6 separate regions of the Homo sapiens genome follow, and regions 2, 3, 4, 5 and 6 are each reported to be linked to region 1. The links are microRNA targets in miRTarBase. Many come from high-throughput screens and were not tested one by one. Region 1 holds a microRNA gene; each other region holds the end of a gene's coding sequence.
The links. Region 1 holds the annotated microRNA hsa-miR-4524b-5p (AUAGCAGCAUAAGCCUGUCUC, at 1,759-1,779, shown strand). A microRNA usually pairs through its seed, bases 2 to 8, with sites in the 3' UTR of a target mRNA and lowers its output. Matches are read on the target gene's strand: a 7mer-m8 pairs with bases 2 to 8, a 7mer-A1 pairs with bases 2 to 7 and ends in A, and an 8mer does both.

Region 2: miRTarBase lists HCFC2 as a target of hsa-miR-4524b-5p. The part of its 3' UTR that is shown has no 7-base or 8-base seed match.
Region 3: the mRNA of FAM229B is a reported target of hsa-miR-4524b-5p. The part of its 3' UTR that is shown has no 7-base or 8-base seed match.
Region 4: the mRNA of ASCC1 is a reported target of hsa-miR-4524b-5p. The part of its 3' UTR that is shown has no 7-base or 8-base seed match.
Region 5: miRTarBase lists LANCL1 as a target of hsa-miR-4524b-5p. Seed matches in the 3' UTR shown: 7mer-m8 at 3,879-3,885.
Region 6: miRTarBase lists GNAT1 as a target of hsa-miR-4524b-5p. Seed matches in the 3' UTR shown: 7mer-m8 at 3,720-3,726.

The regions. Positions count from the first base shown.
Region 1 is chr17:69,097,812-69,102,925 of GRCh38, forward strand. It overlaps MIR4524B (microRNA 4524b), which reads left to right and starts at 1,731; the gene lies at 1,731-1,845. It overlaps ABCA6 (ATP binding cassette subfamily A member 6), which reads right to left. Exons shown (of 39, transcript NM_080284.3): 21 at 5,024-5,114; 22 at 2,986-3,123; 23 at 109-216. It overlaps MIR4524A (microRNA 4524a), which reads right to left and starts at 1,821; the gene lies at 1,753-1,821.
Region 2 is chr12:104,102,541-104,107,540 of GRCh38, forward strand. HCFC2 (host cell factor C2) reads left to right here. Exons shown (of 15, transcript NM_013320.3): 15 at 419-3,984. The coding sequence ends at 733. Among named protein-coding and RNA genes, the nearest start is that of NFYB, 33 kb to the right of the region's middle.
Region 3 is chr6:112,100,368-112,105,481 of GRCh38, reverse strand. FAM229B (family with sequence similarity 229 member B) reads right to left here. Exons shown (of 4, transcript NM_001033564.3): 4 at 2,692-4,812. The coding sequence ends at 4,695. Among named protein-coding and RNA genes, the nearest start is that of FAM229B, 15 kb to the right of the region's middle. RefSeq lists an enhancer at 4,450-5,114.
Region 4 is chr10:72,093,292-72,098,291 of GRCh38, reverse strand. ASCC1 (activating signal cointegrator 1 complex subunit 1) reads left to right here. Exons shown (of 10, transcript NM_001198800.3): 10 at 842-2,260. The coding sequence ends at 958. Among named protein-coding and RNA genes, the nearest start is that of SPOCK2, 7.2 kb to the right of the region's middle.
Region 5 is chr2:210,430,292-210,435,405 of GRCh38, reverse strand. LANCL1 (LanC like glutathione S-transferase 1) reads left to right here. Exons shown (of 10, transcript NM_006055.3): 9 at 1-19; 10 at 843-4,155. The coding sequence ends at 919. The region is part of intron 2 of LANCL1-AS1 (LANCL1 antisense RNA 1); the gene reads right to left. Among named protein-coding and RNA genes, the nearest start is that of LANCL1, 44 kb to the left of the region's middle. RefSeq lists an enhancer at 4,885-5,114.
Region 6 is chr3:50,193,947-50,199,060 of GRCh38, forward strand. GNAT1 (G protein subunit alpha transducin 1) reads left to right here. Exons shown (of 9, transcript NM_144499.3): 6 at 146-275; 7 at 555-708; 8 at 819-1,010; 9 at 1,322-3,750. The coding sequence ends at 1,009. Among named protein-coding and RNA genes, the nearest start is that of GNAT1, 4.9 kb to the left of the region's middle. RefSeq lists enhancers at 1-453, 406-465, 454-969, 1,022-1,553 and a silencer at 776-835.

The sequences.
Region 1 (5,114 bases):
AACATACATTCAAATGTTTTTGTCAGAAGAAAACATTTTGAACACATAGCATTCAAAATACAGATATTGAAATTCCTGAAATTTCTTCTTTTCCCTGCTTTTTCTTACCTTGTAATCACTGATGCTGCCCATGGTGATATAAGGAGAAATGCTACATAGAACCAAAAATAAGAAAAAGGAACCATCCGGCAACCCAGTCCAGAGTCCTATGTGGCTCTGAAAATATAAAGGGTAGCTTAAACTAGTGAATATTTGTTAAATGAAACAAATAATTATAGCCACAAAAATGCACTTTTTGAAATGTTGAAAAATCAAAGTAAAGGTGTAGCTCATTACCATCTAGGCACGAAGGTGGGAGGGAAAGTGACTCTGATCTTCAACTCAAAGAACAAAGAGAAGTCAAAAGTCATTTAGGACCTACTTCTGGGGATATTTCCAAAAGAATTGAAAGCAAGCTCTCGAAGAGATACCCTCACATTCATATTCATACCAACAATACTCACAAGTGGAAGCAACCCAAAAGTCCAAATTAATGGATTAACAAAATGTGTATGTATATACAAACAATGGATACTATTCAACCTTAAAAAGGATCACTTGAGGTCAGGAGTCTGAACCAGCCTGACCAACATGGTGAAACCCCATCTCTACTAAAAATACAAAATCAGCCAGGTGTGGTGGTAAATGTCTGTAATCCCAGCAACTTGGGAGGCTGAGGCAGGAGAATCGCTTGAATCTGGGAGGCAGAGGTTGCAGTGAGCAGAGATCGCCCCATTGCACTGCAGCCTGAGCAACAAGAACAAAACTCGGTCTCAAAAAAAAAAAAAAAAAAAAAAGAAGGAAATCCTGTCACATGCTACAACATAGACGAACCTGGAAAATATGCTAAGTGAAATAAACCAGTTACAAAAAGACAAATATTCCACTTATATAAGGTTTCTAAACTAGTAATATTCATAGAAACATAATAGGATGGTTATTTCCAGGGGATGGGGGAGGGGGAAAGCTAATTGGCATCGAGTTTCAATTCCGCAAGACGGCAAAGTTCTGGAGATGCATTTCACAACAATGTGAATATACTTAATACTACTCAACTGTACACTTGCAAACAGCTAAAATGGTCAATTTTATATCATGTATTATTACCACAACAAAAAAACAATAATTCAGAAGTTAGGACCTCTGATGAACATATAATTCAGGCCTGAGTAGCACGTCTTTCTGAGCAAACCCAGAGATGGAAACCTCAGTAGCTGGGTGGATGTGTTCTGAAGCACAGAACCAAGAAGAAAACTTGTTGCTGCTTGTCTTAACTTCAGGGAAAGGAACTTTAAATCACTACCCCCAAATCAGCATCCACTTGAGGCTAGGCCAAGTGGACACTCTAGCAGCATCTAGGACCACCTCATGGATATAATTACAGGATAACAGCATGAGCCTGTCTCAAAATAATTCCACAATTATTTAACTTTATTTAAGACTTTGAGGGCTATGTCTATAAATTCTGTTTTTCATCATAGGAATGAGGGAGGAAAGGTGTGTGCCATGGGGAAGTGGGAGTGGGGAACAGGTTTCTAATAGAGTAGCTATGGGCTTCAGTCCATTTTGATCCTGAGCAAACACAATGGCATTAGGAAGCTAATAATTCAGAAGTTAGGACCTTTGATGAACACATAATTCAGGCCTGAGCAGCATGTCTTTCTGAGCAAACCCAGAGATGGAAACCTCAGTAGCTGGGTGGATGTGTTCTTTTGAAGGATAGCAGCATAAGCCTGTCTCAAAATAATTCTGCAGTGAGACAGGTTCATGCTGCTATCGTTCCAAAGAGGAAGGGTAATCACTGTCTCTTTCTGCTACTCCTCTGGTTCCACTTTCTGGAGAATTCCCTTCAGACACCCCTTCCCTCGAGTCATCCTGTGCAGCAGACCTGTTTACGTGATCAGTCGGTCATACTCAACTCACGGAGGTATGTGTCTGTCACGAACATCTCAAGTACTGTATATTTCATCCCCATTGTTCCCATGGCTTACAGAAAACCTGTGCTTGCATATACTCCCAGCACCACTGATTCAGTGAAGCCAAAACTGAGCTTCACACTTTTGTCACAAAATGGACTTCCCTTTGGATGGCTTCATTTCTAATCCTGCTTCTTGATGTTTCAGACTTCTGGTGTGAAACAGTTGGAGTCAGCTTTGAGACACCCCTGTTGGTATCAGGCAGGGTCTAACCAGAAAACCATGACTACGTTAAGTTCTTAGAGTGCAATTCCTTATGACATGGTTAGGTGGGTGATGAGCATCCCACAAAGATGGTGAAGTGAGAAGCAAGCTATTGTTGCTTCTGGGCTTCAGGAACAGCAGAAGGAGGTGATGTGACTGGAGCCCAATGTAGGGGGTCCTCTGCTCTTCTGTCTCCCACCACTGCTTTCTAGTGTCCAAACTGTCTGAAGCCAGACTATAGCCAACTGACACAGAATCCAATGCAGCCTGTGTGTATTAGGCTCCCTCACAACATAGAGCAACTATGAGTAGGTGAATAAATAAATCAACAGATAGCCCCAGAACTGGCAGATTCTCCTTCATATTAGTCTGTCTACTACACATTTAGTCAATGGAGGGTCCACTAACTAATTATAATAGATTTATATGTAACCAGGGTTACAAGTTCTCCTGATTTCCAAGTCAGTGTTTTCTTTTTTCTGTTTCTCTTTCTCATACACTTCCACAATCAAGTATGTACAACTTTTCAAAACATTGCCTAGAAGACTGACAAAATATTGAAAAGTATTCCCTCACGATAATTATCTGATAACTTGGCAGGAAAAAAAAATCCTGTTTTGTTTGCTATAACCCATTGAAAATATTAGGATAAAATAATAATTTTCAGGCTTAACAATCACTTATGGATATTTAAAAGCTAAAGAGAGAAAACATAGGCTATTTGTCCAATTCTTAATTGTTTAGACTCAGTAAATCCAATACTTACAAGAGGAAATGGGCTTGACTCAATTCGAATATGTTGTGTGTGATTAAACATTTGAAGTAGCCCATTGCTGATAATATTCATAAGAATTGGAAAACAGTGCAATCTCTTGGTATTACACACAACTGAAAATCTATAATCCTTAAAACAGAAACAAATAAATAATGTTAATGCTAAATTCTTAAAGAACAAAGGCAAGGTTTATGTATAAAAGATCCTAACAGTGCCACATGCTTGTTGTGTGTCCATCTTCAAGTGAACTAAACTTTCTGAGCTTTACCTTCCTCATCTATGAAAAGGAAATACTAAATGGGTTGTTATAGGGCTTAAATGACACTCTATTCATGTACATTAAGCTCTAGCACAGAGTCAGCATACAATCAATATGAATTTTTATTTGTATTACTAATTTTAGATAATTTTGTCTCCATTTTGCTGATGGGGAAATTTCATTTAGTAGAGTTTAAAAGTCTCCCTGACAAGGAGATGCTGTCAGTTTATGATGAAGAAGCAAAGGAAGATTGGGCATGGTGGCTCACACCTGTAATTCTAGCACTTTGGGAGGCCAAGGCGGGCAGATCACTTGAGGTTAGGAGTTTGAGACTAGCCTGGCCAACATAGCAAAACCCTATGTTTACTAAAAAATACAAAAATTAGCCAGGTGTGGTGGCACACATCTGTAATCCCAGCTACTTGGAAGGCTGAGGCAGAAGAATCACTTAAACTCAGAAGGCAGAGGTTGTAGTGAGCTGCGATCACACCACTGCACTCCAGCCTGGGTGACAGAGCGAGACTCTGTCTCAAAAAAAAAAAAAAAAGCAGCAGCAGCAGCAAAGGAATGCTGGCCTTCTGGATAGGAGATAAGCATGGAGTTCATTAAATATTCATCCTTACCCTGCCAAAGAAGCATTTCCCCACTTCCTAAAGCAATCTTTATATTTATGTACTTCATGTTTAGGAAAATGTTCATTAATCTATTAGAAGGTTTATTGTTTAAATCTTACCACTAGTTCATGTAGTAAATATGTGAGGTATGTAACGTAGTAGCTGACAAAGTAATTTCCCAAAACTGGCACAAAGCGATTACATTTTTTATAGCATATTTAGTTTATGTAGAACGGAATTCAGTAATACAACTTCAAAGGCTTTTCTTTTTTAAAAATTTACTTTGTAGCATGAAATAAAGAGGGAGCTTCACTTAATTAGGCCCCTTGCTTTTATTAGAATGCAAATAAGACTGAAGAGTTCTTAACATTAAGATGTATTTTTAAACCGAGCACGGTAGCTTATGCCTGTAATCCCAGCATTTTGGGAGGCCAAGGCGGGAGGATCACCCAAGGTCAGGAGTTCCAGACCAGCCTGGCCAACATGATGAAACCCACTCTCTACCAAATATTCAAAAATTAGCTGGGCATGGTGGTGCCTGCTTGTAATTCCAGCTACTCTGGAGGCTGAGGCAGGAGTCACTGGAACATGGGAGGCAGAGGTGTAGTGAACCAAGATACTGCCACTGAGCTCCAGCCTGGGTAACACAGCAAGACTCTGCCTCAAAAAAAGTATTTTCAATAGTCTTGTTCTCTAATGAATCTCTATGGCTTGACTCTTTTACCCAAATCGACATATGCTAAGGTAGCAGACTGAGAATACTTTTTTCTCAGTTATTTCGTGTAGATATTATAGTATTTAATGTATTTTCTCAATATATAAAAACAAACTTTATTCAGGTAGTTAGCTACTGAATAAAATTCCTTAAATCCATAATTATATTGGTTGATAATTATAAGCTATAATATTTTTATTGAGTTTAAACAGTACAATTAAATTTAGATCCTTTCAAATGTAAAAGTTATCTAATTCAAAACAAAACTAAGATAGAAAATGTTTTACAAAAACTTAGGTAAACTTCACAGTTTATTAAATAACAACCCAGAATGTTTTTCTGAGTCAAGTTTCTGTATACTAGCTTTAATTTCTGCAGTTTTAAAACAGCTAAAATGTAGTACTTTTTGTTTTTTTCATAAAAGCAAAAAGGCAAACATACCTTTTGTTTACCAGAAACTATGATAGCTCCATTGTATGAGAGGCCATCAGTACCATTTCTGTTTTCAAAGTCATCTACTTCCAAAAGTATA
Region 2 (5,000 bases), not on the chromosome of region 1:
TTACAGCATCCAAATCACAGAAAGGCAGGGAAATCTGGTATGCTTCTAAATTTGTTCTTGTTATTATGGAACGAAAACATTTGGCTGGAGAATTTTAATAGAGCACTCGAAACTGGATTATATTTTATCCTAATGTCCTGTCCCTCCCTAGAGATTGTTTAGGAAATAAAAATCCCTGTTTTGGGATATTACAGGCAGACATTTAAACTTAGTTGTGTTTTTGAAAAGCAAGCATGAAATTAAACATTGTAGATCCAAATGAGGTAGGTTTTAAAAATCAACAATAAAAGATGTAACATCTAATGCAATTATTTTAGTAAAAATGAACATTTTGTATTCTAAAGATAGACTCAACATAATAAGTGATAACAGAGGAAACTTAAGAACCTTTAACCTGTTTTTTCCCCCCCCCTTCAAGAATGTTGAAGGTATCCACCTTTCCTGGGAACCTCCAACCTCACCTTCTGGAAATATTTTGGAATATTCAGCCTACTTGGCTATCCGCACAGCACAGATACAAGATAATCCAAGTCAACTTGTGTTCATGAGGATTTATTGTGGTCTTAAGACATCATGTATAGTAACTGCTGGGCAACTTGCAAATGCACATATTGATTATACATCCAGGCCTGCCATTGTGTTCAGGATATCAGCAAAGAATGAAAAGGGATATGGACCAGCTACACAAGTTCGGTGGCTTCAAGGTAACAATAAGAAAGCACCTTTAAATTGAATTGGTTTTTTTACTGAAGCTATTGTGATGATGATTATTTATTAGTAACTGGTTATGAAGATTTGTCATTTAAAAGAGTATTCTCTGGCTGTATTTCCAGCAGTTATGAACTTGAGTTTGTAAATTGTTCTTAAAATGTATTTGCTGAATTATAGATCCAAATAAAAGAAAAGAAGCAAAGACTCTCTGAAAATTAGTATATGAGTTCTTCCTTACAGATATAGCTCTTTTATAAAGAAAAACAGTGAAATTAAGATAAAAGCTAGAAAGCTTTATTACCCCAATATCTTTTATAAGGGCTGTGTAACCCAGTCATCCTAGAGTTATTGAGATGATTCTGGTAACTGGCTGTTGTATACTATGCTGTCTTATATAGTAAATGTTCTCTACATTGTAAATGTCCTACCTTTGAGTACTCCTTCTATCTTTATTCTATATGAGCAGTGTTCCTCTAACAACTGTCTTCTATTGGATAATATGTGTGATACTATAATAATTCTAATAGTTATTTGATTCCTTTCTTTGTTTACAGTTAGCACAGAGCTTAAGAAATTAAAAAAGAGGCAAGTTTAGAAACTGCTTTTGAACTTTTATTATTTTCCAAGAATCATGGTAAAATACAACAAGAACAATGAGTTTTCTTGATTCTTACCAGGCCAATATATTTGAATATATTTTTGGCCAAAGCACTTAACTTATCTGGCCCTCATTTTCCTCATAACAGATGAGGGAGTTAAAGCAGTTTATCTTTTAGGTCCCTTTCAGCACTAAGGTTTTGTGTTTTTAGTAGAAGTGAAGTATGTCCCTGAACATTTTCATCTGTCTTAATGGCTCTAATTTTGCTTTTGCTAAAATTAAAATCTTCATAATTGAATTCAAAATTAAAGTATATGTCCTCCTATTGGAGAAAAAAACAAGCACCTTAACAGGACACAAGTTTTAAAATAGTGTTTTAAACATTTGTAAGATTTTTGTAAATGCTCTAAATGTTTTATTTTTGCATTGTTTTTACCTTGAAATTGTATAAACTTTTTTACTATGAAAATATAAGCATTAGACAGCTAACTCAGGTTCCATTACAACCTTAAAGATACAGATAGGCATTATAAACACTCTGCTACAGGTAACTTGTTTTAAACCTTTTAGGAATTTCATGGTTCCACTGCCTATTTAAATCTGGAATTAATATACAGAGCAATAATTGCAGAAAAGATATTTCAAACTAAGAGCTTCAATAACTGCAGGGGCACAGGTCTATCTTTTTTTATACCACATAACCTTATGCCAGTTTAGGTTGACTGAGTAGCTATGTCCTCAAATTTCATGTATGATACCCCCCAGCAAAGATGGATTTAATTGTGCAGAATTGATATATATGTGTGTTCCAGTTACTAATTTAAAGTGTATAGAATATTTTAATATATAATTTTTGTAAAGAACTGGGATTTTTATACTACAGTATTTGTAATTAATGTGTCTCACTAATTAAGTTTCTCTTGAAGAAAATATGCAAATTGTTAGACACATAATGAGTGGTTTCCAAACTCTAAAGATAAAATAAATGCACTACTATGGTGTTGTTAGAATACCTTTTTTGTGGCTGTATGAATCTTTACTCTTTAAATGTGTACTTTACAATGTTTACAAGGAGCTTCTCTGGTTTGTTATCCCAGCAATGCCCTTGGTGAGAGCTTCATTCTGCATTTGTTTAATTCATATGCTTTGCTTTTGGCATATGCTTGCTTTTTGCACTAGTAGAATTTTAACTTACCTCATTATTATGTTTGTAATCATTTGTCTAGCTTCTGTAATGTATCTGATATAGGCTAAACAAATACTTAACCAAAGTTAAAATACATGGTAAGCAATTTTGCACATATTAAATATTAGGGTTTGTTGTGTATATGTGTATACTTAATTATAAAAGAATATGAATGGAAAGTTATACTAAAAGTATATGTTTCAAGCCCAGTTATTTTAAAGATCTATTGCTTTAATAGAAAAAGTTTGGCTTTTAACCCTTTCTTCTCTGCATTAATTAACAACGTGCATCTTGAAGCCCTTCTCCTGATAACAAGGAATAAGTTGATTTTAAGCAAAGGATAGAATATTTGTTTGAGTGTGCACATTTATACCTGTTTAGTATTTGATTCAGTTAAGCCTCCACTCTTCTGGATCAGGAGGTGATTCTGAACCTGTGGTTCTAACATATGACTTAACTGTTTAGAGGGAAGAGAAGTCTTTCTATACTGAGGGATTTGTTAAAATCATAAATGTTTTTGCCCTGAGACTTAGCCCAGATTCTATTTTTTTTTTTTTTTTGGCATTTGTACATTAAGCACCAGTCATATTTATCTCTGTGATAAGGGATTGCTGACTAAAAAATGCCATTAAGAAATCTCTGTGGCTTTGACATTAGTAGTTAATAAGAGATCTTAGAGCTGTGTGCTGATGAATAGAATGAATTGGAGCAAATAGCAAGAGAAGTGCATTTAGCTTCTTATGATTTGCACATTTTCTAAATGAAGATCCCTTTGTGTAGCAGTAGGCTGTATCATGCAGATATTTTTCATAGGATTTGCACTGAGTTAAATGACTTTCTTTACTCTTCCCAGTCAGGTAAGCAGTTCAAATATAACAAGACTTTGTGCCAGTCCTCTTCTGTGTTCTGCAACTCTGGCTCTCATAAGTAGTAAAAATATTTTTGATGTTGCATGCTCTCAGAATTATGTTTTCTAAAATATCATATTGGCTTCATTTTAGTTTAATAAACTTCTTTGGCAACTTAATTAGACATAGGGTATATATAAACTCAATTTTATCTGCATTTTTTAAAAAATTGAAATAATCTGATTGCATGTATGAAGGACTCCTGCCTCATTACCCAATTACATAAATACAATTATCTATAGGAAGGTGAAATTGTTGATCTATTATTTCAAAGACTTGTAGACTAGCAAAGATTCATTCTGATTAGAAATAAGGTCTATAGCTAAAGATATTTTTATTTTAAAAAATTACAGCCCTTGTAACAAAAATCATTTGTAACATTGGATATGAAGACATTATTAGTATTTAAAATTATTGTAGTCATTTGATCATAAATGAAGTAGCTTGCAAAATAGACTTGGTCTTTGACCCTTTAAGGTGTAACTGACTGACTGTTGTGTTTTTCAAGACTGATTTTAGGCAGTTTTATGTATCGTGTACCAATGATATGTAAAATAAAGCACCTTTTCTACTATAAACAATTACAGGTGTTATTTATTTTGAAGGATATGAAAGAAAAGTTAGTGATGGCAGAGTAAATCTGTAGAAATGTTGATTTTATATTTAAAATAACATTATGTAAACATATTAAACATATATTAACATGTTTAATAATTAATATTTAATAATTAACAAGTTTAATAATTGTTAAACATATATTTAAAAGGCTGCCTGTATTGTTTGAAATAATATAGGCAGCCTTTAAATTAAGAATGGATTGTGTTTAAAAACTTGTTTTTAAGTTTTTAAGATGGCAGTTGGGAGTCGTTTTCTCATAGAAATGTAAATCCTATGTAAGTAACCCTTGTCACACCTGAACTAGTATGCTTGAAAGTAAAAAGGCAAATGGCTCCAAGAAATAGTCTAAACTTGTTGTCACCTTTTTTTTGTCTTTCATTTACTCTAAAATATTTTTCTTTATTCTTTTCATCCTTTTAAATTCATAGCAGCCAGACTTCTGACCTGCTGCTCCATTGAAATGGCTCTAGCAAAGTTCAAGGATAACCTCCCATTTCCCAAATCCAGGGAACTCTTTTATCGTATTTAATCTTGTCATTTGAAACTTTTGTCCACTGTCTCGGCACTTCCTCATTTTTGTAGTGTCTATCATACCATGCTTTCTGTCCATCTTTACACACCTCCTCCTGTCTATGGTTCCCTTTTTTACTCCCACCTGTCCCCATTCATTTTTTTTCCTAGATTCAGGCCAAATTGCCAATCTGAAGAAGTCTTTCCTGACATACTCCACCACCAGGTAGATTTAACCCCTTCTTTTTGTTCTCCCACTGTCCTTTGTTAAATCTTCTGTCATAGCAGTCTAAAAACTTAGCGCCCCTATTTGTTAGCATGTCCCTCTCCATCTGCTAGATGGTAGGTCTTCAAGGCAGAGACTGGGTCTTTATACCCGTTCCATGTTGGCTGGCTAGTTAACTGGTACTTAAATATTTTAACAAGCGGGTAAAGAAAATTGTCACCTTTACACTTCTTCATATTCCCA
Region 3 (5,114 bases), not on the chromosome of region 1:
TCTTTTTTAAGAACCAGCTTTTGTTTCTATTGATTTTCTCTATTATTTATCTGCTCTTATATCATTGTTTCTGCTCTTTATTACTTCTTTCTTTCTGCTTATTTTGGATTTAGTTTGCTCATTTTTTTCTGTTTTCTTAAGGTAGAAGCTTAGATCATTGCCTTGAGATGTTTCTTCTTTTCTAATGAAATAATTTATTGCCTTAATTCTCTCTAAGCGCTACCCATGCATTTTGATATGCTGTGTTTTTGTTTTCATCCAGTTCAAAGCACTTTCTAATTTATTCAGTCATTTCTTCTTTTATTCATGGGTTATTCAGAAGTGTATCACTTAGTATTCCAATATTTGGAGATTCTCTAGGTATCTTTCTATTGTTAACTTATAATTTAATTCTACTGTAGGACATACTTTGCCTACCCTTCCATACTTTGAATACTTTTCAATTTATTGAAACTTGTTTTGTGGCCTACAATATGTTCTACTTGGTAAATTTTCCATGTGCACTTGAAAAGAATATACAGTATTCTGCTGTTCCTAGGTAAAGTGTTCTATATCAATTGTCATGTCCTCTATATCCCTACTGATTCTGTTTACTTGTTCTACCAGCTGAAATCCTGAACTACAAATGTGGAGTTAGTTCTTCTTTCAATTGCATCAGTTTTTGCTTCATGTACTTTGAAGCTCTGGCATAAACATTTAAGATTGTTAGGTATTCTTGATGTCTTGACCCCTTTATCATTATGAATTGTCTCTCTTTACCTCTGTAAATTCTTTGCTCTGAAATCTTCTTGTCTATTATTAACATAGCTACTCCAGCTTTCTTCAGATTAATGTCTGCATGGCATATCTATTTCTATCCTTTTATACTTTTAATTTATCTGAGTCTTAGTATTTAAGGTGGGCTCATGTAGACAGCTCATAGTTGCATCTTCTTTTCTAGCCAATCTGATAATCTCTGCCTTTTAACTGAAATTTAGACCTTCTGTAATTAATGCAAATATCAATATCATATGGTTTAAATGTATTATCTTTGTTCCTTCTTTCCTCTTTTCCTGTCTTCTTTAGAATTAAATGAGTAATATTTATTACATTTACTCTCCACCATACAATAATTAGAGCTACTGTATTAGCTCTAACTCTGTTTGTTAGGTTTTAGAGATAACTCAAGTTTTACTTCATCAGTCTATTGTCAAATACCATTATGTCATTTCACAAATAGTCTAAGAATTACAAAAGTAAACTTCTATTTTCCTCCTCCTTTGTTTTTTTGCTAGTATTATACATTATACTTTTACATAAAATATCATTGCCATAGTTTGCCTTAAACGGTTATCTATTAGTGCTTAAAAAATTTTAAAGCCTATATATTTATCCACATATTTTCCATTTCTTGTGTTCTTTCTTTCTAAAGATCCAAATTTCCATCTAGTACCATTTTCTTTCTGCCTGAAAAACTTCCTTGAACATTTTTTATAGTGTAGATCTGCTAGTGATTAATTCTCTCAGCATTTGTTTGGCTGAAAAGTCTTTACTTCACCTTCATTTTTGAAAGATACTTTAAAGATACTGCTCCATTGCCTTTTTGCCTTCATATCTTCTGATGAAAAGTGTGCTCTCATTCTTATGTTTCTTTCTCTGAATGCATGTGTCATTTACTATCAAGTTTTAAGATTTTTCTCTTCAATTTAATTAGGACATGTCATTGTTTTGTTTTCATGTTGCTTCTCCTTAGGGTTGGTTAAGATACTTGGATCTGTGAGTTTATAGTTTTCATCAAATTGGGGGAAAATTTGACCATTATTTCTTCAAATATTTTTCTATCCCCCTCCATTCTTCTGAGAAGCCACTTACATATATATTAGACTGCTTGATAATGAAACACAAAACTTATACGCTTTTTTCTTTGTACTTAATGTTGGATAATTTATATAGCTATATATTCAAGTTCATTAATATTTTCTTCTCCAGTATCTAATCTCTTAATCCTATTCAGTGTATATTCTTACTTCAGATATTGTATTTTTCATCTCTAAAAGTTCTATTTGGGTCATTTTTATACCTTCCATTTATTTCTTCATTATGTTTTTATCTACTACTTGAACGATATTTATGGTAGCTGATCTACTGTATTTGTCCATTTTCACACTGCTATAAAGAACTACCTGAGACTGTGTAATTTAGGAAGAAAGGAGGTTTAAATGATGCAGTTCCACAGGCTTAACAGGAAGCATGGCTAGGAGGCCTCAGGAAACTTACAATGGCAGAAGGCAAAGGGAAGCAAGCACATCTTACCATGGTGGAGCAGGAGACACAGAGGGAAAAGAAGGAAGTGCTACACGCTTTTAAACAACCAGATCTCATGAGAACTCATTCACTATTATGAGAACACCAAGGGGTGTTCTCCATATCCATGGAGAATACTCCATATTCATATCCATATAGGTGTTCACCATAATCCAGTCACCTCCTATCAGGTCCCTCCCCCAACACTGGGGGTTACAATTCAACATGAGATTTGCGTTGGGACGCAGAGCCAAACCATATCATTTACTAATGCCATCATCTGTCATTCTCAGTCTATTACCATTGACTAAAGATTCTCTTGACTGTGGATTGCCTTTTCCTTTTTTTTTTCATGCCTGGTAACTTTTTATTAGATGCTAATCATTGTGAATGTTACACTTTTGGTGCTGGATTTTATTGTAGTTTTTATTTTTATTTTGATGGGTTTTCTCCCCTTGGATGCACTCAAGTTACTTGAAATCAGTTTGATCCTTTCAAATGTTGCTCTTAAACTCTGTTAGGGCAAGTCCAGAGTAGTCTTCAGTCTATTCCCATCTCCCTAACCTAACCCTAACCCTACTTTGCCAATATTTTGCTGAAGACTCTACTCAATGATCCATGTACTATATTAAAAGATCCACTATTGTTGAAACACATATTCTACCCAGCCTTGTATGAGCTCTGAGGAATTTTTCTTTGTTTTTCTTTTTTTTTGAGACAAAGTCTCACTCTGTTGCCTAGGCTGGAGCACAGTGATGCAATCTCAGCTCACTGCAACCTCTGCCTCCTGGGTTCAAGCTATTTTCCTGCCTCAGCCTCCCAAGTAGCTGGAATTACAGGCACCTGCCCATCATACCCGACTAATTTTTGTATTTTTAGTAGAGTCGGGGTTTCACCATGTTGGCCAGGCTGGCTTCGAATGCCTGACCTCAGATAATCCATCCACTTCGGCCTCCCAAAGTGCCAGGATTACAGGCATGAGCCACCAAGCCCAGCCCTCTGAGGAATTTTTCATCACTCCTTTCTCCTTCCTGTCATTTTTTCTCCAGCCTCAGGCAATTTCCTGCCTCGATTTTGTTTTCTTCCTTTAAGGAATGTTCTATTTTTATTTGGCAGATAAAATGAGGTTACTTAGAGATCATCTTGAGTCTCTCAAGGCTTATTTTTAAGCTTTCTTAAAATTGGTATACATTAGCCTTTAGTCTAGCTCCAGTTTGGATCTCTTATGAAAGTACAACCTTTCTGAGTCTCTACTCAATGCCCCACATGTTCAAGATCTTTCCACTTTAACTGGTTGGCATTCAAACTTCTCCCAGCTCAGTGTGAGCTCTGAGAGTTTTTCCTCTTATAACTCCCTGGCAGTTTTTCTTTTCACCTAATGCAACACATATGCATCTACGTCTATTTAATTATAAGTTAATAAACTTTTCATTTTAAAAGGCTTATATGTATATTTTCAGAAGCAGCAAGGTAGACAAAAAACACTGGTGAAAATTGTATCTGATCCTAAAGTCAGTCTTTTGGAGAAGACAATTTCATTAGATGGGTGCTGACAGCCATCGAGAGAAAAGGAAAGCAGACTGAGTTTCTGGGGACTACTGCAAGAAGAAAAAGAGAACATAGAGAGCTGGCCTCATCCTCAAAAGTGATCCCACATCTAACCAAATTAAAAAATCCACATGAGGTTTCTCAATACCTACTGTAAACAATTTATCAAGATACCTGGTTAGCACTTCGTGTACAAAGTGATAACCAGACGTCATTTTTCTTGGAAAAATCGGGGTTGGAACCACAGCTTTGACTTCATTATCAATATATTTAACCAACAATCTGGGCTCCTCTATGGAAGTGGCTTAAATGCCTTGCAGATTAACCATGGACTAAGAACTTTCTTTGATCTTGAATACTGTTCCAAAACACACAACCCCAGGGCTCCATTTCTCACCCAATATAATCATTCCTGAGCAGAGCATTATCAAATAGTATCAAGCCAGGAAACTGGCTTAGGGTACTAAGGTGAAAGGATTTAGCCAAGTAGCAACCCAAATATGAACAAGGAAATGAGCTTAAGACACATTAAGCATTTAGAATAAGCCCCACCTGACTGATGACCATGGTGGATTAAGCTTCATCTTTAATTATTGATATTAATGATCTACTGTGAGCAAGATGATCTCTAAGGTACTTTCTAATTGTGAAATATTATTCTGTCTTATGTATCAGACATAACTGATAGCCTATCACTACATGTGCTTTACTGACTACATTTCTGTCGGTCTTACTAAAAGTAAAGAGCTCAACTGTTGTCATCATCTAAAGGTGCCACCACTTTTATTTGTTTACCAGATCACCAGATGATACTGGTCCATTACCCTTGACCTAGTCAGACCTTGACAAAAGACTTAATGGTGCTATTTAGGATGCATTTCCTTGCTGCTTTGTGCAGGTGGCTTTCTCGTTGTTGCATAAACAGTGACGGGAACATCAGTTATTGTCAGGCAATGACTTCCAGGGCACCTCCGGAGTTGCCTGAATAAAAAAGCAGATGACATGTAGTTAGATACTAAAAAGAGGAAATATTTTTTTTCAGAGCACCAAAGTTTGATTGTATATTTAACTGTTTTAAATCACTTTGAAATCTCTGAATGTCATACAATGAGTACAACATGGTGATGCTGACGAGGCACCCATTTTAGATGGATATAACAAAGAAATTGTGGCCTCTGACGTACATATTTAATCACAGGAAATTCATATATTCAAAGATAATCCTCCGGATGTTGATTTTGAAAGGTATGCAATGATTGCTAAATGGCAAAACAAAAGTGCAT
Region 4 (5,000 bases), not on the chromosome of region 1:
TTTACTCTTTGACGCTCCTTATTCAGGCACTATGGCTGCATTTTCCTGGGATGAATTCTGATGTCATTTTGGGTCCTGCCTTATAAATGTGGTAATCACAAAGTCCAGTCCCTCTTGGAGTATGTATGGTTCATCCCTCACTCTGACACACTTTTGAAAGCTTTTGTAAAGTACAGGATCATAGCAAAAAGTATTTATTTTAGGTCGCTGGCTTGAATCCAAGTCTAATAAAGGTATTTGATAAGTAATCACTTGTACTTGTTCTGTTGGCAGTAGAAGTGTCCCTTGGGTTGTTCTGTGTGTGTGTGCATGCTCTGTGTCCCTCAGTGGTTTGTCTGAATCACTTGTGAGTCAGGAGCCTTATCTTCTATTTATTTTAGTCAGCGCTCCTAACAAATGGCGTTGATTAGATATATGTTACGTCAAATTTAACCCTGGTGCAACAAAGCCGAGATCCCTGCATGGTCAGTCACTGGAAGTCAGAAGCAGCCTGGTCAGACTCTGTGAGTCAGGGTGTGGCCATGGGGCGTTTGCTATAAGTTCTTGGTCATATCTGGTCAGTAGATGAATTTCGGATTTGACTTTTCAGAACCTCTTTCTCTGGTGCATTTGTCAGGGGAGACTTTAGAATTAATCAGAGAGAAGAGCTGGCTGTTCTTTTCTCACTCCCACCCCCATCCCTCCTCTCCTGGATCATTATTCAGAGTAAACACTGAAAAGAAAAAGCATGAGAGATTTGTTGGGATTGTTGTGGTTTGGTGTTTTTACAAGATAATCTGATGTTTAATATTTTCATCTATACTTTAAATATTCATTCTGGGTTTTTATTCTTCCTTTTCAGTTGTTTGAGAACTTCTACTTTGGCTCCCTAAAGCTGAATTCAATTCACATCTCTCAGAGGTTCACCGTAGACAGCTTTGGAAACTACGCTTCCTGTGGACAAATTGACTTCTCCTGAGGTGGATCTTGGAAAGCACTAGAAACTAAACATCTTCACCAGGTGCTGAAGAAAAGTGTCTTCGTTTTAATTGCCAAGCAGGGATGTGGACATTTGGATGGTGACTTTCCTGGGTGGTTCCCCATAGATTCACCATTGCCTCTAATGGTGTCTACACCCGTCATACTACCAGCTGAGATGGTGGTGGGCATAAGGAGAATTTGTGCCTATAACCCTTAGTGTGTTCTGGTTTTTTTTCTTTTAATTTTTAAATTGTCGTAAAATACTCATAAAACATACTGTCTTCACCATTTTTAAGTGCACAGTTCAGTAACGTTAACTGTTAATACATTCATAATGCTGTGTGGCCGTCACCGCCGTCCATCTCCATAGGCTTCTCAGCTTGTAAAATGGAAACTGTACCCATTAAACAGTAATTCCCACTCCTCCCAGCCCCCGCAGCCACCATTCTGCTTTCTGTCTCTCTGGTTTTGACTATTCTCAGTATCTCATATAAGTGGAATCATACAGTGACTTGTCTTTTTGTGACTGGCTTATTTCACTTAGCATAATGTCCTCAAGGTTCATCCATGTTGTGTCAGGTGACAGGATTTCCTTCCTGTATTATACATATAATGGAATGTTCCGTTACATGTGCGTACCACACTCTGTTCCTCCATCAGTGAACACTTGGCTTGCTTCCTCTTGACTATTGGGAGTAGTGCTAATACAGACACGGGGGTGCAAATATCTCTTTGAGACTCTGCCTTTAATTCCTTTACCACCCAGAGTTTTATCTTTAGCAAAATAACCATTAAAGTTGTTTGCCTTTTACTTTGCTTGGTCTATCATTTTCCTACCAAAGTTTGTCCTCTTAATATTTGTTGGATTCCTGTTCCTTCACCCCATCCCCACCCTCATCTTCCCATGCCCCTGATGGAGTTGCAGTGTTGCAGCCCTTTTTTGTTTACTTTTCAAGGCAGCAGCAAAAGAAACTGATGATATCAGCAGGACTGTGCAGAGTTCCCTGGAAGAATGTCAGCCACAGGAGGCCCTCACTCCTCCCTCACCACGGACCAGCAGAGGGAGGCGGGAATGCTGGGGAGCCCCAGCCTCCCACCCCTGCCTCCTCACATTCTTCCTCCCTCCATGTCCTCTCCTTCTTCTCCTTCCTTATTCTTGCCTTGATTCTTTCTCTCTTTATATTCTTTAACTGCACTTCTGAACTCTGTGTTAAGTTGCTACATTGTGAGGACTGTGTCTAACAGTGAGATTTATTATTGGGACTGCACAAATCACTTGTGAATAAAATGTTTAACGGTGTTTCTGTTAGTATGATCACATAGTTCACATAGTTTGAATTTGACCCCTTCCTGTGTTGGGATACAATGTTGCCCTCACTTATTTACCAGCATAGCTGGATCATTCATGGAGGACTTACATATTAGTACCTGCAAGGTTGATTTTTTTTTTTTTTTTTTTTTTGAGACGGAGTCTCGCTCTGTCGCCCAGGCTGGAGTACGGTGGCACGATCTCGGCTCACTGCAAGCTCCGCCTCCTGGGTTCACACCATTCTCCTGCCTCAGCCTCCTGAGTAGCTGGGACTACAGGCGCCCGCCACTGCACCCGGCTAATTTTTTTTTTTTTTGTATTTTTAGTAGAGACGGGGCTTCACCTTGTTAGTCAGGATGGTCTCAATCTCCTGACCTCGTGATCTGCCCGTCTCAGCCTCCCAAAGTACTGGGATTGCAGGCGTGAGCCACCGTGCCTGGCCGCAAGGTTGATTTTTTTCCCAGAAGGCCTCCTCTTTCTACGGATATTCATTTTCTATACAAATTGAGATTTTACTTCACCTCAGATTGTTGTTAGGTGGCACTTGGGAATGAGTGCTCCAGGGACAGTGCTGAATTCTGAAGCTGACTATGGAGTTAATGCCCCATCTCATCTTGATGTGCCTCTCTCTCGGTTTCTTTCTGACAAGCCATTGGGCAACCTCAGCCAGGAAGTAAATGTCACTTCTTTTGAGTTTCTGAGACTTATGACTTAACATTTGTAGGAAACTTTTTTTTCTAAGTTTTTTGTCTTTGGAAAATTTAGCTTTATATATTGAATACCAAATTCTTTTTTTTTTTTTTTTTTTTTTGAGACAGGGTCTCACTCTGTCACCCAGTCTGGAGTGCAGTGGCGCAATCATGGCTCACTGCAGCCTTGACCTCTTGGGCTCAAGCTATCCTCCCACCTCAGCCTACCGAGCAGCTGGGACTACAGGCGTGCACCACCATGCCTGGCTACTTTTTATAAAAAAATTTTTTGTAGAGATGGGGTCTCACTGTGTTGCCCAGGCCGATCTCGAACTCCTGGGCTCAAGACATCTTCCTGCCTTGGCCTCCCAAAGTGTTAGGATTACTGCTGTGAGCCACCACACTGGGCCCAAATACCAAATTCTAAATAGAATTGGAAATTGTGTTATTGAGGATTTAGTGATTACTCTTCCCTATGTCTTGTTAAGTAATTCTTCTCAAGTTGTTTGCCTTTTTCCCTCTGTTTCTCTCACCAGTTATACAGTGGGGTTTTCCAGAGGCTCTATGACGCGACAGCATCATCACTCTGGTGGTTAATGGAATGTGTGTTTGTGTATTTCTGAGTTCTCTAGAGTTTTGTAAGTTGGTAGGTATTGGTAGAATTGGAAAATTTTTAACATTTAAATTTTAAAAAATTCCTTTTTTTTCACATGCTGTGGTAGGCAGAGATAAAATATTCTCTCATGAAGTCTGTATTCCAATTTTGGGGACAGTATAGCTCTAAGGAAATACAGTTTTCAGTGCTGTTGTGGAAGAGGGAGTAACAGTTTTGATGTAGAACTTTTATGAAAAAGCAAAATGGTAGAGAGCAACAACAGTAAAAGGGTTAGAGTTAAGGTTCCCCTCTCACCAAATGATAATGGGGTAAATGTTGGAGGATTTGCTGCTGCTGTGCTTACAATCAAACCTTCCTTCATATTACTGTTTTGTAATTCATTCTACACTGAAATAGTTCATTGTACCTAACACTGCTCCAGCCAGCTTTTGAGGCACTGACTTCACCCTCAATTTCTCTTAAGAGGAAGAGGGAAAAAAATCTCTCACTCGCTACTTCACAGAATCTGTGTTGTTATACATGGAACTTTGTTATGGAGAGTAATTTTTATTTTAGACACATTGTAAATGTTTCTTACAATGATTATTTTTAAAGCAAGCTCTAGAGTTTCCAAAACTGGGCATTGAGTAGAATCCAGCATCGTAATAATTCAGATTTGGTTCCTGTTTGCCCTTGTACTGTGCTGGAGCTCACTGTCCTGGAGCTCAAGGGAACCCACTGGCACTAGAGGTGTATTGAGTTGAGTCAATGGAACACCTGTCAGCTTCCATCTCGATACCATAGGGAGCATGAATGTTCAAGCTCTTGCTGCTAGAAGTGATGAAAGTGGCTGCCGTTATGGTTTTTATTAATAGCTTTTTTTTTTTGTAAAATGTCCTTTTAAATGAAGACAAGTTTACTTTATGAAAAATAATCAAGTTTATGCTTTGTGCTTTTGTCACTGTGTGTTATACTTCAATTTAAATCGGAGGCTGAAACCAGAGGTTCGCTTGAGGCCGGGAGTCCAAGACCAGCATCGGCAAACTAGTAAGACCCCATCTCTACAAAAATAAATAAATAAATAAATAAATAAATAAATAAATAATAAATGAAAATAAATGTTAGCTTCCAGAGGTAACTACTCCCTATACATTTAGACATATATAAAATATGAGAAGTTAAGAAATTTTTCACAAATAATAGCTAATGTTAGTGGAGTGTTCACATTTGTTATTTTTTTGTGCATTAATTCAATCTTTACAATAGCCCACTTAAGTAGGTAATATTGTCCCCATTTTACAAACTGAGGCTTAACAAGGTTAAGAAATTTTCCTTAAAGTTGGGGGCAGTGGCTCACACCTGTAATCCTAGCACTTTGGGAGGCAAGAGGATTGCTTAAGCCCAGGAGTTCAAGACCAGACTGGGCAACATGGTGAGACACTGTCTC
Region 5 (5,114 bases), not on the chromosome of region 1:
CCTTTCTCTCTCTTTGAAGGTATTTTGTACACTTTATTTATTTGCCCTATAATATCAGCATCTACTTCTCTGCTTGGTAATTAATGTATTTAAGTTTTAGCAAAAAATTTTATAATTATTCTTAAACTACTTTTTTATTTCCTAATATGCTAAATCGATATTAAAAATCAATTAGCACATGTAATACCACAGTCCCAATACTGGTAGTCATCAGGTGACTCCCTTTTATGGAGCCAGGCACATGTTGGGCATTTTGCAGACGCCCTCATAAATCATTCAGCAAAAACATACAGGCACTACTACCTTCATGTCATAGCCGAGGAGACTGAGGCTCAGGAGCTTATGTTTGGTAAATGGCAGGGCTGTGACTTGAACTTGTCTGGCTCCATTCTTTCTCCAGTCTTCCACCGGGATATAAGGCTGAACACCTCACTAGTGATCTCTTCTAATGTTGAACTGCAGTGTATGTAAACGTAGATAGATTCACACTTCATTTAAATCATTGCCGTTAATATTGTAATGTTGTTAATGTTAAAAAATGGAGCCATCCTTCGTTTTTGCAGAGTTGTAACTGCTCTCGGGGGGTGTCAGTGAGGTGAGGAAAAAGCCATAGGATGCCGAAGGAGGAGGGCCAAGAGGACACCCCCACCCTCCAGTGCGGCCTTGATCCAGACCTTAGGGACGAGGCCATCACTGGTGGGCACCCTTTGTTGATGTTTGTGTGTTTGAATAGACTGAAATGCTGTGACTTTTTTTGTCAATAAAGATATGGGGGAAAAAGAACCATCCTATGAAATGGAGTCATTTGGTATAATAACTTTTGCCTCTTTCTCTTTCTTCAGGAATGGCTGGAACAATATATTTCCTGGCTGACCTGCTAGTCCCCACAAAAGCCAGGTTCCCTGCATTTGAACTCTGAAAGGATAGCATGCCACCTGCAACTCACTGCATGACCCTTTCTGTATATTCAAACCCAAGCTAAGTGCTTCCGTTGCTTTCCAAGGAAACAAAGAGTCAAACTGTGGACTTGATTTTGTTAGCTTTTTTCAGAATTTATCTTTCATTCAGTTCCCTTCCATTATCATTTACTTTTACTTAGAAGTATCCAAGGAAGTCTTTTAACTTTAATTTCCATTTCTTCCTAAAGGGAGAGTGAGTGATATGTACAGTGTTTTGAGATTGTATACATATATTCCAGAACTTGGAGGAAATCTTATTTAAGTTTATGAATATAACCATCTGTTACTGTTCTAAAAATGTTTAAAAGAAACTCAATACAGATAAAGATAAATATGTGACTATTATTGGGTATTACACTTCACTTCTCTTTAATATTTTTCCTCCAACTGGAGGGCAGACAATTTTCTGACTTGCTTTTCTCTAGGTGGTTCATTTTGAAAGGGGACAGAAATATAACTAAATGCTTCCAGGAGAAAAATTCCAAGAGTTACAATCTGGACTTGGTACCTAAATATCATTTTTTAAATTCTTGATGCCTATTTGGACTAGAGGTAAACATACTTTCAGATTGGCCTGTTTTTGTCGGTAAGGCATACAGCCTTCAGAAGCCAACATTTTTAATCAAAAACTTATAAAACATGATGATCATTGTGAAAATTCTGAGTTGAAGGTTAGTTTAAGATAAGCTAACAATAACAGTCTGTGTTTTCTCTAAAATAATCTGAGTTTTTTGGAACTCTTTATTTAAATATGTGTGTTTTTCAGTATTCAAATAAGATCAGGAAGCCAATTTTCTATGTATGAATATGCTTTAACCTAGGATTTCAGTCCACTCTGACTGACTTTCTAAACTTTAACTTGGGTTTTTACAGTGACTATGCATTAGTGCTGACTCTTTGGTATAAGCCATAAAATATTTTCCTTCCTATCAATTTATCTGAACTTTGGTCTTTTCACTAAATTGTACAGTATTCTACTTCTGTTTAAAAAGGGGAGATGAGAAAGGGAATACTATCTAACCAATAACTTGAACAAAAACACTAAACTAAGCATTTAATAGAAATGCTTTTTATTGAGGAGGTATTATCCAGAGTTCATGCTTAGAACAAATGCATCTTTGCGTATCCTAGACTTAACAATTCATCAGTTTCTGAGACCACAGAATCAGGTTTTCCGTAGTAGATAAAGACTCTCTGGTGCTTCAAATTCTGTTCAAGTGTTTTGACTCATCAGCTTCTACTCTTTCTATTACTGCCTTTGCCTGGCTTGTTTTGTCTCTTTGCAACTGATTTTGCAAAAAAAAATTGTAGCTTTAAAATAACAGGGTCTAAGTATTTTAAATGTGCCTATTTCACAGCTCTCTTGGTCACAAAAACATGCTATTTTTATTGGAACTTCAAACCAAATCCCCACTGAGTGTGTACTGGTTCCTGCAGGTAGCAGTCTCCTATTATCTCCTGTTTAGCACCAAAAGAGCTAATATTATTGGAAACTGACCTTTTAAAGGCCACTGGCAGTAGGATTTAAAAAGCAGCCCACTGCTCAGTTTCCAGGATCAGCTTCCTCCTTCTGTCACTTGTGTAAGTTGGCACTACCTTGTGCCTCTCAGATTGCTGAAGTGCTGCTGGTAAGCATGTGCATGCTCTGCCTTTCTTGTGAAAGTTTTCAATCAGCGATATCAGCACTTACAGTAAGAAGTAAAAGTAGTGCACAGCAAAGCTAATTTGCCTTTGCCTGGGGTGTTCAGCTTGAAAGAATAAAGCTCATTTGGTTTAGTTAAATGTCTTACTCTACTGTGCCTATGCTTTTAGCTGCGTTACTAAGCAAGGGAAAAATAACAGTTTCTCTGAGCCAGAGAAGACTTGATCACAGTTCTCCAAGCATCGTGATAGCAATGCTTAACCCCAGGAAGATTTCAAGGCAGGGAGAAGAACATTTCAAATAAGATTCTTGTTAACCCATTTATGCCTAGTGTTCCATTATTGGAATGCTAAGCTTGTGGGAGTCATTTACATCCTACTGCTCAAAGTCATTGCCAAGGTCTGATTTTTCACACAAAAAATTGCAACCCCCAGCATAAATGGGTTAGCTACTGTCATCAGTTAGCAAATTCATCCACACAAACACAATTAGAGTTTGGTTTTTTTTTAAGCTTTTCAAAACTTACTAAACTGGCACAATTTTATATGTATGCTATTTGTTGTATTTATGCTTAAGAGCAAAAAAGTTTTGATGGGATTTTAAATTCAGGCAAAGCCTACAACGCTGAGACAATCCCCTAACAACATGGTAGTAACTAAAGAAACTTTTATACTAGGCTTCTTAGTTTTAAAAGGAAGTGGCATCATTGTTTCAGTTCTAGTTTGTATTTTTCTCTCAGATATTTTTCTTCTTTAAAAATCTTTCCCAGAAGTTGGTTCCTAGAAAACTCAATACCATCATCTCTTATCTCTATACAGGGACTAGGTAATAAAACCTTCAAAGGTTGTCAAAGGTCATCAAGCAGTGTTCATTTATCCTGTCACATGTTTCTGTTTCTATAGTAATTTAGAAATTGCAAATAGTTAACTTTTCATCATGTAAAAAGTTAACATTATCCTATTTCCATAGATACCATGGACGGCGGTGTGGCCTGAGTTGTCAGTCTTTAATCCTGAGTCATGTGGCTCTCTTTTCATCTTTGATGTCAGTTCCAATTATTTGGCATCAAAAACCTTCATGGTAGGTAGAGTTTTAGGTAAAAGTGGATCTAGGGTTACTTTCTTTATTAACATTTCCTAAATAACTGAATTGAGAGACATACTCTGCTACTATGTCCTCAGGTTAATTTTTGTCTGATCTTACGATGCCCTGCCTTTTACTAGCTACTTTAGAAATAGAAAATGTGAAGAGTGACTATTTACATGTATACTCCTTTGGCTGCTAGAACTCATCTGTAGTCCTTTATTATTTACACTGAATTCCAATTTCATTTCTGCTTCCGCTAAGTAAGAGCACCTCATTCCTGTGTTTTCTCTACTATTGAGCTGTAGACGAACTGTTTCTCTAATTATAAAGCAAACTGTTTGGGATATTCAGGGAAACTACCCCAATGTTATGTTGTCATTTAATGGGAAAGGCTGGGATCATATGTATTTCTATGTTCTGTAAAGTATTTGACTTACTAGTTCTCAATAAAATTTTATTAGGACTATATATCATCATGTGCTTTTTGTTTGCTTTGGTTTAAACTTGAGAAATATTTTCCCTCAATGGCAAGTTATTGCGGGATCTGGCCAGCAGCCCGCAATGCAACGGGGCTCTCTCTTTGTTCCCAGGCAGATTGGTAGGTTGAGAAATAATAGACTCACACAAGATAGTGAAAGCCGCGTCCAGGGGGGTCACCGCCTTCTGGTTCTGCGGTGCCAACAATGCGCTGGATATACCAGCATTTATTATTAAGTTTAGTGAGGGCAGGGGTAGGTTAGTGAGGAATTTAGGGTCATTTGATTATGAGGTGAGATGGTCACGTGGGGATGAAGTAATGCTTTAACATAACATTTGTATGCAGAAGTACAGTATACAGGGATAAGAATTTACAATATAGTGTGTGCATCAGTAATTTCTAACAGAGCCTTAAAACAGAAACACATTCTTTCCATAACCTATGATTAGCAAGATATTAATCAGCAGTAACAGTTGCAGCAAAAGCTGGTTACAGACAATCCATAGAAATAGGACGTGAAGCTAGACAACTGGTTAGACCAGAAATTCTCAGAAGGGAGTATGCCTTAACCCTAAAGAGGCCTAGAAGAGCCATGGCAAGATGAGGGCATTTATAGCCCTATCTTATCCATATGGACAGGCGCCCCCCCATGCGTCCATTTATAGGCTCTCCACAAGGGTCGCATTCCATTCCCAGAGCTATGAATATCTGCTTTTCTGGGATAGGAATCTTGGTGATGATGTGAAACCTCCCTGACTGCAGATCCATTCATAGGCTATCTGCAGGGGGAAGCACATTACATGCTGTTGGCTCATACTGGCAGTCCAACCTGGCATTGTCTTTACACAATCCTGCATGCAACTTTGTATTTACAATAATCAGGAGCATTTCATCTTTTATTCCGTAGCAGTAGTTTCAGGGGGTTCTCCCTACAGCAAGTGAAGGTTTT
Region 6 (5,114 bases), not on the chromosome of region 1:
CCCTGCGATAGACCCTGCCCCTTCCCTGATACCCCGCCAGCAGAAAGGGTGGTAGTCCCGGCCGAGAGCTCCCCGACCAGCACAGGGCGAAGGGATGTTGCCTGTGGGGCCCGGGGCGCAGGTTCAGGCCCCCGCGGCCCCGCAGGATGTTCGATGTGGGCGGGCAGCGCTCGGAGCGCAAGAAGTGGATCCACTGCTTCGAGGGCGTGACCTGCATCATCTTCATCGCGGCGCTGAGCGCCTACGACATGGTGCTAGTGGAGGACGACGAAGTGGTGCGTGCCAGGCAGGGCCTGTGTTCCAGGGGGGCGAGGAGGAGCTGCTGGTCCCTGGAGGCGGAGACCGCGCGCTGGGCTGGGGGAGGGCACGGGAGGGGATGCCTGTCCCGGGCGGCCTGAGGAGGCCCGGAGGCGTTCAGCAGGCCCATCTGGGGCAGTGCGGGGAGCCCTCTGAGAGCCAGCTGAGCGGGAAGCCCCGCGTGCCCGGGAGCCCAGAGAGCAGGTGCTGCGGGTCGGACGCTACCCCGGGTGCCCAACAGCTGCTGCCCTCCTCAGAACCGCATGCACGAGAGCCTGCACCTGTTCAACAGCATCTGCAACCACCGCTACTTCGCCACGACGTCCATCGTGCTCTTCCTTAACAAGAAGGACGTCTTCTTCGAGAAGATCAAGAAGGCGCACCTCAGCATCTGTTTCCCGGACTACGATGGTGAGAAGTCCGCAAGGCCGCCAGGCGGCGCCCCCGCCCCACGATCGCGGCGCGCACCCCCCGCACGGGGAAGGAAGGGCTGAGCAGAGTGAGAGCTCCCGCCCCCGCAGGACCCAACACCTACGAGGACGCCGGCAACTACATCAAGGTGCAGTTCCTCGAGCTCAACATGCGGCGCGACGTGAAGGAGATCTATTCCCACATGACGTGCGCCACCGACACGCAGAACGTCAAATTTGTCTTCGACGCTGTCACCGACATCATCATCAAGGAGAACCTCAAAGACTGTGGCCTCTTCTGAGGTAGGTCGCTGCCCTCTCCAGGCTCTTGCCTCAATACCCCAGCCCCGTCCAGCTCCCCACCCCACACCACGGCCCTGGAGCCTCACCCCCAAATCCTGGAGCCTACTGCCTCCAGGCCCCACCCCAGCTCCTCAGGCTCCACCCCACCGACAGAGGCCCCGCCCCACCCCACAAGTCCCACCCATTGAATTTCTTTTGGCCCCGCCCCAAGACCTCAGGTGTCACAGCTTCCAGGGCCGCCCCACCACACACAATGCCTAAACCCATTTATTTTGGGTCTCAGGGATGCTGACTGGGTTTCCTTTTCACAGGTGCCTGAATTCATGCGTGTCAGTCACCCTGAGACCTGGTAGCCCTAGCTGCCTTGCAGCCCCAAACCCCAGGACCCTATCAGCCCCCTGGGACTCCCTGGCCCCAACCTGCCACCTCACCAAAGCTCTGAGCCCTGCTAGCCTTGAGGCGCGGACCCTCCCCCATACCTCCCACAGTATCCCAGCGCCTCATGCCCCCAACCCCAAGCCCTGCCCTTCACCGCCCGGCTGCACTGGCCTCTAGGACTCACAGCAGCCAGCCCCAGCTAGGAACGGGCAGGACTTGGGGCAGCTGAAGCTCACGGTGACTCAGCAGTGCCCAACTGACCAATCTCCCGCAGCTCTCCTGCCCCTGGGGGCCCACGACTCACCTGGTGGGCCTGGGCTCAGCAAACAGCCCTCCCTCCCAGTATTTCATCAAGGACAGGGAATATCCCTCCCACACACAGGCCAGCTGCTCACCCTGCCACCTCCATGTGACAAGTTTGACACCTGTCTACCCAGAGCCAGTGACTGTCCCTCCCAGCAGCCTCCAAAGGGTCCAAAGTCCAAGCTAGCTCTGGCCTGTGTGGCCCCCACATAAATAAATTAGTGGGGAGGGGGCAGACCTGGGGGCCCTTGGGTGCCAGAGTGAGACACAGCAGGACCCTTCCCCAAATACTAGGCTCAGAGCAACCTCCAGCCTTCTCCAGCAGGATCTGCTCCCTGTGTCCTTGGACAGCAGATCCACACACCACTTCCCCACCCACACACAGTACCCTGGGCTGGTTGGACAACAGGATGGTGTGTTAAGGGGTTAAGGGAGGGTACTGTTGACACCAGCTATGGCCAATAGCTGGGCTGTCCTGAGGGGTGGCTGGGGACAGAGTCCAGCTCCCTTGGATCAGCCCAGAGGATTCAGGATAGGACAAAGGCCCTGGCTGTGCCCAAAAGGGTCTACCTCAGGTGGGGTTACAAGCAAACCTGGGTGACCCTCTTGTCCCTACCAGCAGCTTCTCTTGCCCCTTCCATTCAGGGTTCCCTGGCAGGGGAAGCTGAGAGCCATGGCTGAACTATCAGGGACAAAGGCCCATGTCCCCACATCCCTGCTCCCTCCTTCCTCATCCAGCACCAAATCTTTGCTTATGTCCACAGGCCAGGGCCTGTGCTGCAGTCGGGGACAAGGAGCTTCCGTCTGGCAAGGCCGGGGCACAATTTGCACTCCCCTCAGCTAGACGCACAGACTCAGCAATAAACCTTTGCATCAGGCTCCAGCTGTCCTTTCTTGGTGGAGGACTTAATTATCACAAGTCATGGGCATTTATTAAGTGCCCAGTGCTGGGTTGGGCATGAAGTGGGAAGATGGCCCCTCCCAGGAAGAAGTACCTGGCCTGACAAGGTGGGGCACTCTTGGGGGTATGGGACCAACTCATGGCTTTTCACGGGAGTTGAGGAGAGAGGAGCTGTGGAAAATATTCACTGGGACAGTCTTGGATCAAGAGGGAGTTTTGAGGTGGAGGCTCATTCTGGCAGGGACCGTAGTGTCTACCAGCCCCAGAAACATGGGCTTATGGCCACAGGAGTTCAGTGGAGCAAGAGCAGGGGAGGAGAGACGTGGACAGGTGCCCAAAGCCAGTCGGAGGGCCTGGGCTTTCTCAGAAGGTGATGGAGAGTCTTGGAAGCCCTCGAGGCAGGAACATAATTGCAGGGCTGGGATTAGGGTGAGGGAAGTGAGGCACACTCACCTTGGGTGCAACATTTAAGGCGATGCCAAAAAATTTAGTAACCAAGGTAAATAATATTAGGATAATATTTTTAAAAATCAAATGAATGCAAAACCCCACAATGAATGAAATATCAAAATCCAACAGAGGATCAAACAGAGGCATGCTAAGATATATTGGGGCTTGAAGCAAAGGGAAAACTATTTGTTGCTATATGTTTGTAGGGATTTTTTGCCAGTTTTAAAAATACATGTATCATAAAGTTTACTATCTCAGCCACTTGCCGGTGTATAGTTTGGTGGTGTTAAGTACATTCATAATGTTGTACAACCACCGCAACTGTTCATCTCCAGAACTCCTTTCCTCTTGTAAAACTGTAACTCTGTACCCATGAAAAAATAACCCCCCATTCCTGCCTTCCCCCGGCTCCTGGCATCCACCATTCTACTTTCCATCTCTATGAATGTGACTGCTCTAAGTGCCTCAGATGTGTGGGTCCATGAAGTCTTTGTCTTTTTGCAACTGGCTTATTTCACTTAGCATCATGTCTTCAAGGTTTATTCATGTGTAGCATATGGCAGAATCTCCTTCCTTTTTAAGGTTGAATAATATTCCATTGTATATATTCCACACTTTGTTTATTTATTCATCTATTGATGAATGGTTACATCTGCCTTTTGGCTATTGTGAATAATGCTGCTATGAACATGGGTGTACAAATCTCTCTCCCAGCCTCTGTTTTTTATTATTTTGGGTGTATACCCAGAAATGGAACTGGCAAATCATATGGTGAATCTTTTTTTTTTTTTTTTTTTTTTGAGACAGAGTCTCTCTCTGTCGCCAGCCTGGAGTGCAGCGGCACAATTTCGGCTCCCTGCAACCTCCGCCTCCCAGGTTCAAGCAATTATCCTGCCTCAGTCTCCTGAGTAGCTGGGACTACAGGCACACGCCACCATGCCCAACTAATTTTTGTGTTTTTAGTAGAGACGGGGTTTCACCATGTTGTCCAGGATGGTCTCGATCTATCTCTTGATCTCAGGTGATCTGCCCACCTCGGCCTCCCAGAGTGCTGGGATTACAGGCGTGAGCCACTGCAACCGGCCTCATATGGTGAATCTATTTTTATTTTATTTATTTATTTATTTATTTATTTTGAGACGAAGTTTTGCTCTTGTTGCCCAGGCTGGAGTGGCAATGGCATGATCTCGGCTCACTGCAACCTCCTCCTTCCATGTTCAAGTGATTCTGCCTCAGCCTCCCAAGCAGCTAGGATTACAGGCATGTGCCACCACACCTGGCTAATTTTGTATTTTTAGTAGAGATGGGGTTTCACCATGTTGGTCAGGCTGGTCTCGAACTCCCAACCTCAGGTGATCCGCCTGCCTTGGTCTCCCAAAGTGCTGGGATTACAGGCGTGAGCCACTGCACCTGACCCCTTTTTTTGAAATGAAGTCTCACTCGGTCGCCCAGGCTGGAGTGCAGTGGCACGATCTCAGCTCACTGCAATCTCTGCCTCCCGGGTTCAAGTGATTCTCCTGCCTCAGTCTCCCAAGAAGCTGGGAGTATAGGCACCCACCACCATGCCTGGCTAATTTTTGTATTTAGTAGAGATGGGGTTTCACCATGTTGGCCAGGCTGGTCTTGAATTCCTGACCTCAAGTGATCTGCCCACCTCGGCCTCCCGAAGTGCTGGGATTACAGGTGTGAACCACTGCGCTCAGCCTACTTTTAATATTTTGAGGAACAGTTTTCCACAGCAGCTGTACCATTTTACATTCCCACCAACAGTGCACAGGTGGTCCCCCTTCCTCTACATATTTGTGAACTCTTGTTATTTTCTGGGTTTTGTTTTGTTTGAGATGGGGTCTCGCTCTGTTGCCCAGGCTGGAGTGCAGTGGCACAATCTCGGCTCTGCAACCTCTGCCTCCTGGGTTCAAGCAATTCTCCTGTCTCAGCCTCCCGAATAGCTAGGACTACAGCTGCATGCCAGCATGCCCGGCTAATTTTTTTTTTTTTTTTTTTGAGACGGAGTTTCATTCTTGTTGCCCAGGCTGGAGTGCAATGGTGTGATCTCAGCTCACTGCAACCTC